2 linked regions of the Homo sapiens genome follow. The gene in region 2 interacts genetically with the main gene of each other region. Each region holds a gene or a part of one and is shown on either strand. Other genes may lie near its edges. The genes, in order: NR5A1 and PRKCZ.

Evidence for each region.
Region 1: changes in PRKCZ (region 2) and NR5A1 together harm fitness more than expected from each alone (negative genetic interaction), as found in Homo sapiens cells (one large-scale study listed by BioGRID).

The regions. Positions count from the first base shown.
Region 1 is NC_000009.12:124,500,828-124,504,636, forward strand, and holds part of NR5A1 (steroidogenic factor 1), read right to left. Parts: intron 2,584-3,809; 5' UTR 2,569-2,583; coding exon 2,467-2,568; intron 2,394-2,466; coding exon 2,252-2,393; intron 1-2,251. UniProt on the Homo sapiens protein: Transcriptional activator. Essential for sexual differentiation and formation of the primary steroidogenic tissues. Binds to the Ad4 site found in the promoter region of steroidogenic P450 genes such as CYP11A, CYP11B and CYP21B.
Region 2 is NC_000001.11:2,144,391-2,148,199, reverse strand, and holds part of PRKCZ (protein kinase C zeta type), read right to left. Parts: intron 2,814-3,809; exon of another isoform or gene 2,689-2,813; intron 2,174-2,688; coding exon 2,092-2,173; exon of another isoform or gene 1,895-2,091; intron 1-1,894. UniProt on the Homo sapiens protein: Calcium- and diacylglycerol-independent serine/threonine-protein kinase that functions in phosphatidylinositol 3-kinase (PI3K) pathway and mitogen-activated protein (MAP) kinase cascade, and is involved in NF-kappa-B activation, mitogenic signaling, cell proliferation, cell polarity, inflammatory response and maintenance of long-term potentiation (LTP).

The sequences.
Region 1 (3,809 bases), on a different chromosome or scaffold from region 2:
TTTCATGGCTCCCACTGACCACAGGGGAAGTCAGTCTCCTTTGCCTGGCATTCAAGGCCCTGCTCAGCTTTTCAGGCAATCCCTGCTAAGACCCCTCTCCTTCCACTCCACCGAACTCACCTCCACTCCTCTGTTTGACACATCTCCTTCCTCCTCCACCCTGCCTTTCATTTTCCTTCTGACTCAAACTTTTTTTTTTCTCTTGTGCTTGCTGAACACCCAGCCTCAATGTCACTACTTCCAGGAAGCACTCCTGGATTCATGCAAACGGGCTCTACTGTCCTTGCCCCAGGTGCCCTGTCCTTGCCCACTCTTATCATGCTGAGTGGATCATGCCATGTGCTCCTGCGGGCTAAGTTCTGGGCTCAGGTGTCTAGCATAAGGCCTGGCAGGGAGATGGTGACCGGAAGGGGACCCTGGTCAGCCTTGTTCACCGCTGGCCCCAGGGTCCAGCTGTTTGTTGACTGACTGCCTGACTGTTGAGCTCCTGCTTCAAAATGACTCAAGTATCCTTCACTGGCTGCGAATGTGAAGCCAAGTTTAGAGCTGGCCAAGGCTCTATGCTGGGGGAGGGGACCTCTCTTGCCGACTAGAAGCTCCTCCGCCTGGCGAGGAATGTGTCATCAGCCAGACCCAACAGGTACATCTCTGCAGCTGGAGTGTGCCCCCCGCCCCTGCTCAGACAGGGCCCCACCCTGGGATCTGGGCGAGGGGAAAGAGCAGGAGAGAGGGGGTGGTGGTGCTCAGCAGGGATGATGGCTGGGGGGCTGCCTGGCCAATCTTCCTGCCCCCTGGGGTGGGCAGCGCTGTGCTGCTCGCAGGCTGCACGGGAGTTTCTACTGCCCACAACAGCCAGCTATCTGGCCCCTTGGGACCTGGCACTAGGGGCATGGGCTCTGGGGACAGGACAGGATGTCCCCTCTCCCATCCAGGAGTCCTTTCTCCAGGTGGCAGGGCATGTGGTCCACCACTCTCAGAGCCACCTGGGGCTTTCTACACTGTTCCAAGACCTTAATCAACCACTGCCTGTTCAGCACACAGTCCAGTGACCGGCCACCTCCAGAAGCTCAAATCTTTCCTGCCAAAACTTACCTCCTCCTCTCTGGGCTGAGAGCTGGGGTTGAGGGTAGGGAGGCAAAGAGGGGCCTGGGTTTCTTGGGGGCAATTCAATTGTCCCCCACTGCCCGGCCCCCTCAGGGCCTGGCTAAGAACATGACGGGAAGGAATCTCACTGGCTGAGCCAATAAACCAGAGAGCCCTTTGGATGGACGGACAGACAAGCAGATGGGCAGCTGAATGTGTGGGGGCTGGGCGGTGGTGGTGGGCAGATCCTAATGGAAAGCGTGATGGGCTTGACAGCTAACCTGCGGCAATGAACGCCTAGGCACCTTCAGCTTGCCTGCACCGATCCCCACACTCACTCACTGGAGGAAGGCGCTGCCGTTAAGCCCATTTTTCTTTTCTTTCTTTCTCTTTCTGCCTTTTCTTTTCTTTCTTTTTTATTTTTATGTACTTATTTTTTGAGACAGGGTTTCCCTCTCGCCCAGGCTGGAGTGGAGTGGTGTGATCATAGCTCACTGCAGCCTCGACTTTCCAGGCTCAAGTGATCCCCCCACCTCAGCCTCCTGAGTAGCTAGGACTACAGGCACATGTCACCACGCCCAGCTACTTTTTTATATTTTATAGATACAAGGTTTCTCCATGTTGCCCAGGCTGGTCTTAAACTTCTGGGCTCAAGTGATCCTCTTGCCTCAGCCTCCCAAATGCTGGAATTACAGGCATGAGCCGCTCCATCCGGCCAAGCCCATGTTTCACATGGGAAATCTGCGGTTTAGAGAGGTTAAGGATTTTGCCCAATGTCACCCAGCCTGACTGACAGTGCGGGCACTGGGACTTGGCCTCTGCTGGCTGGGGTTGGGTATTTTGGGGGCATGGGGACCTCCTCACAGAGGGAGGAGCTCTGCCGACCCTGTGCTGGGGCCCTGGCAGGGGCTGGGGAAAGAGTCATCTCCATAGGGTTCACTTTTGGATACTTCTCAGCCCAACCCAGGCTGGCCTTGCCAGCGTCCCTTCCCCGCCCGAGGCCCACCCAGCGCCAGCGCCCGGTTCTCTTGCAGCGACTGGGCCCTAATGTCGCACGAGGGGCCTTCGCGAAGGCCAATGGTACTATCCCCTCAGCCCCTCTCCCACCCCCACCCCCTACCCCCTCAGGCTGTGGGGGGTCAGGGGTCGAGGCCCGCGCGGCGCGCACCTTCCAGGCGCATCCCCACCGTCAGGCATTTCTGGAAGCGGCAGAAGGGACAGCGCTTGCGCTGCGTCTTGTCGATCTTGCAGCTCTGGCTCTCGGTGCACGTGTAGTGCTTGTTGTTCTGCACCGTGCGCTTGAAGAAGCCCTGCGGGAGCTGAGAGTCAGCGAGGCCCCGCAGCGCCCGTCTGCCGCACCCCTGCCGCGCGCTCGCCGCTCACCTTGCAGCTCTCACACGTGAGCAGTCCGTAGTGGTAGCCGGACACCTTGTCCCCGCACACGGGGCACAGCTCGTCCAGGTCCTCGTCGTACGAATAGTCCATGCCCGCGGCGTCCGCCTGCGGAGGGACAGCGGGTCAGGGAGGGCCGGCGGAGACCGGCAGCCTGGGGTCCCCGCGGCCGCCGCCCCAGCCGCTGTCGCCGGCCCGTCGCGTAATCCCCTCTCTGTGCCCAGGCGCTGCCGCCGGCACCCACCGAGCGCCCCGCGCAGCGTCCCGGGGTGGGTCCGGTGCAGTCCCCGCGCCCGGCCTTCCCCTGCCAGGCCCCACGCTCCCGCCCCGTCCGGGGGGCTCCTCCCGCGCGGACCCCGTCGCGCCCGATCTGGGGCCCTCGGGTTCGATGCGCTTCGATTGGGATTCGTTTGTCTGAGAACAAAACCCCGATTCTGAGAAAAAGAGATGGGCTCAGCCGCGGGGAAGACGCCAGGGGACCCAGGAGCGCTGGGGCGCCCGGCCCGGGTGTTCTGGGAACCCGACAGAGACGAAGGAGGCAGAGACAGAGTCCGGGGGAGCCAGAGATGGGAAGAAACTCTGGCGAGAGACAACGACCGACGCCACCGGGCGCAGACACGAGGCCAGTCCGAGAGTGCCAGAGACACAGACACTGAGACGCCCAGCTAGAGAGAACCCGGCGGGGACGAGACACAGGGAGGGATGGAGAGAGACAGGGAGACAGAGAGAGAGAGAGAGAGAGAGAGAGACGAGAGAGAGAGAGAGAGAGAGAAACGAGGGGTGGGGGATTGGATCAGAGACTCGGAGAGACAGCGGAGGCCCGAAGAGAAAACCCAAGAGAGACTGACGCAGAGCCAGAGACACAACGATAGACGACAGACAGAGACGCCGAGACGAGAGGAGCCCCGGAGAGACGAGGCCGGGGAGCTACAGAAACACGGAGAGAAAACCTGGAGGCGGAAGCGCCCAGCCCGAGGGTCGGGGACAGGGGACGCGCGGAAACCTGCCGGGCAGGAGCCCAAGCGCCAAGGCGAGGCCCCGCAGGGTCGGACCCAGACGGGGGCCCGGGCCGCAGGAGGCGGAAAACGACGGCGCCGGGACCGAGAGCCCGAAAACGCAGAGCCGCCGGGACCCCCTCCCCGGGGGAGACAAAGCCGCAGCAGCGACGGCAACGGGAGGCGCAGCCCGAGCCGCCGCTGCCACCGGGACGTCGGGCGGGGAGACCTCGGGCGGGGGTCGGCGGGCTCCGGGAAGCCGAGCCCGAGGCGAGGGAGCGACCTCGGGCGGAGAGGCGAAGTCCGGAGGAGGGAAGCGCGAAGAGCCAGGGCCCGGGA
Region 2 (3,809 bases):
GGAGAGGTCAGTGGACAACAGACAGATGGGTGGACAGGTCAGTGGACAACAGACAGATGGATAGATGGAGACGTCAGTGGACAATAGATGGATGGATAGATGGAGAGGTCAGTAGACAATAGATGGATGGATAGATGGAGAGGTCAGTGGACAGTGGATGGATAGATGGAGAGGTCAGTGGACAATAGATGGATGGATAGATGGAGAGGTCAGTGGACAATAGATGGATAGATGGAGAGGTCAGTGGACAATAGATAGATGGATAGACGGAGAGGTCAGTGGACAACAGACGGAAAGATGGAGAGGTCAGTGGACTACAGACAGATGGGTGGACAGGTCAGTGGACAACAGATAGATGGACAGATGGAGACGTCAGTGGACAATAGATGGATGGATAGATGGAGAGGTCAGTGGACAATGGATGGATAGATGGAGAGGTCAGTGGACAGTGGATGGATAGATGGAGAGGTCAGTGGACAACAGACAGATGGGTGGACAGGTCAGTGGACAACAGATAGATGGACAGATGGAGACGTCAGTGGACAATAGATGGATGGATAGATGGAGAGGTCAGTGGACAATAGCTGGATAGATGGAAAGGTCAGTGGACAATAGACGGAAAGATGGAGAGGTCAGTGGACAACAGACAGATGGGTGGAGAGGTCAGTGGACAACAGATAGATGAACAGATGGAGACGTCAGTGGACAACAGATGTGTGGATAGATGGAGACGTCAGTGGACAAGATAGATGGATAGATGGAGAGGTCAGTGGACAACAGATAGATGGAAGGAGAGGTCAGTGAACAATAGATGGATAGATAGAGAGGTCAGTGGACAATAGATGGATAGATGGAGAGGTCAGTGGACAACAGATGGAAAGATGGAGAGGTCAGTGGACAACAGATAGATGGGTGGAGAGGTCAGTGGACAACAGACAGATGGATAGATGGAGACGTCAGTGGACAAAAGATGGATGGATAGATGGAGAGGTCAGTGGACAATAGACGGTTGGATGGAGAGGTCAGTGGACAATAGACGGATAGACGGAGAGGTCAGTGGACAATAGATGGATAGATGGAGAGGTCAGTGGACAATAGATACATGGATAGATGGAGAGGTCAGTGGACAACAGATGAACGAATGGAAGATAGCTGGAGGATGGGTGGGTGGAGGATGGCTGGCTGGCTGGCTGGATGACGAGATGGATGGATCGTGGATAGATGGATAGGTGGTGGATGGATGGAGAATGGGCGGGTGGAGGATGGCTGGTTGGCTGGATGAGGGCTGGTTGGTTGGCTAGGTGGGTGAATGGATGATGTACGGATGAATATCTGTATAGAGGATAGGTGGGTGGAGGAGCAGGTGGGCAGGCAGTTGTTTGTGAGGCATCTCTTTTGCGTGAGGCACTGTGTGAACTAAGTGCTTTATGTTCTGTGGTCTCATAAGTGCTTTATGTTCTGTGGTCTCCCAATGAGACAGAACTCACATGCATCAAGTGAAAGTGAGGCTCTCACACCCCCGTGCAGAGGTGCAGGTGTGGAGGCTCAAACCTGGGCTGTAAGTCCAACTGGTGTTTGAGATCTCTCTCTGAATGCTTCTTAGCAATAAAACAAGTCCTTCCCCACAACAAACAAAACCTCACAAAAATCCAAGGACCATGCCACTGCCACGCTGTGTGTGCAGCAGCCACCTCGCCAGGCTTTCCCCAGATAGGGCTCAGCTCTGTGCAGCAGCCAGATTGTGGGAGGTGCCCGGCCATGGTGGCTGCTGCACTAAGTGCCTTCGAGAACTCCCGGAGCTGGTTAGAGGAAGAGGCTCTGCACCCCTGGGCAACCACAACAGCACTTCACGGAGGCATCCCTGCCCAGCAGCCTCCAGGGAGGGCCAGCTCACCCTGCTCATCTCTGCCGGGGATTGAGAGGAGGCCCTGGAGAGCCTCATCCCCAGCCCCAGGGAAGGGTGGCCAGGCTTGAAGACAATGACCCCTGCAGAGCAGATGGGACTGAGAAAGGACTCGTGGCTAGAAGGCAGAGGTGAGCAGGGTGAGGTGATGCCCAGGCTCTACCCGGCCGGAAGAAAGCAGCGCCTACTTCCATCTGTCTCCTCGGAAGGAAGGTCGGCGTCCTCGTTCTTGTCGTCTACTGGAGGCTCTTGGGAAGGCATGACAGAATCCTGCCGGAGAGACACAGAGATGGCAGCATGACCAAGTGCTAGAGCAGGTGTTACAATGTAGCTTCTGTAAACACTTTGTGACTTTTTAAAATTAAGAACTTTTTTTTACAGACAGGGTCACAGTCTGTCATCATCCAGGCTGGAGAGCAGTGGCGCGATCACGGCTCACTGCAGCTTCAACCTCCTGAGCTCGAGCAATCCTCCCGCCTCAGCTTCCAGAGCAGCGGGCACTACAGGTGCGCACCACCATGCCTGGCTAATTTTTGTATTTTTTTTGTAGAGATGGGGTCTCACCATATTGCTCAGGCTGGTCTTGAACTCCTGGCCTCAAGTGATCTTCCCACCTTGGCCTCCCAAAGTGTTGGGATTACAGGTGTGAGCCTCTGCACCTGGCCACTTCAAGACTATTTATGATTTACATATTTACACATTACAATGGGTATACTGTAATATAGTATATAAAAATCTAATTGTTATGCTATTTTACTGAATTAGATAAAGAACATAAACATTACCTATGATTCTGCAGACGGAGGTGGCCACTCGGTACTGCAGGCCATGACCTTTCCACCAAGTGCTTTATACAACGGGATATTTTGCACAATGCTTGGTCATCTCCCCTGTCCCAAAGCTGCATCCTGTCAGTAACCAAGCATCAGGGGGCCATTCTAAGGGCCTCTGGGTTCCGCCTGCAGATATGTCATAATGGAGCCACCAGTACTGGTGGTCAGCTGGGTGGCAGGCTCTGGCCTCCCTCCGCCTCTAGCTGACCACATTTCTGGGGCCGGTCTCATTTGCTTACGCTAAAGTGGACCTATGAGGTCAAAGGGCATTACAGGCTTTTTGGCAGATGCAGCTGAAGGACCTCTGGAAGGACTGTGCCAACGCATGCACCAGCCTGCGTGGTCCCCCATCCCTGTGGCTGGTGATCCTGGGGTGACACCCTGATCCAGACTCTGTCTTTATCCCGTAACAGAGGAGAGGGCACGTCACTGCCACAGGCGCCTTTCCTCCCATGCCACAGCAAGATGCAGACAAGCCACCCTCCCCAGACACACCCACTGCACGCTGCAGCAGGGCCCAGGGAGTTGAATGTTCAGTCCAGGCCTCACCCCCGTGGTTCAGTGGGATGCAGGGGGCCACACGGAAATGCCAGAGGCAGCCTTCAATAAGCAAAAGTCAATAAGGCCCCCAAAGGCCTGGATGCTTCAAGTCCAAGCACTCGGGGATGGCGGAGGGAAGGTGCCGCCCTCATCACAGGCTGGGCATGGCTTCCCAGGGGGGATGCCAGGGAGAGGCTCCAGATGTTCGGAGCCTCAGCGTGCCCAATGCTACTAGGTCAGACCTGGCTTTCACCTCCACAGTCCTTAAGAGCTGGTTCAAGACTGGGGTATGAATGAACCTTACCTCCGACCCACTGAGCAGAGCGTACCACGTCCTACCTGAGCCTGCTGCCTGAGCCTCATGCCCCAATGAGCAGAGTGTGCCGGGGGCTTGTGGGGGCTCAGGAAGATGGGTCCTATCCAAGACTGCCGCCTGAGTCTCACGCTGCAGCCCAGAGCTAGGACGGCACCACGGCCCCTCTTGAAGAACCCAGGGTCACCAAGGTCTGCTTGGACAATGGGCTGGCTGCCAC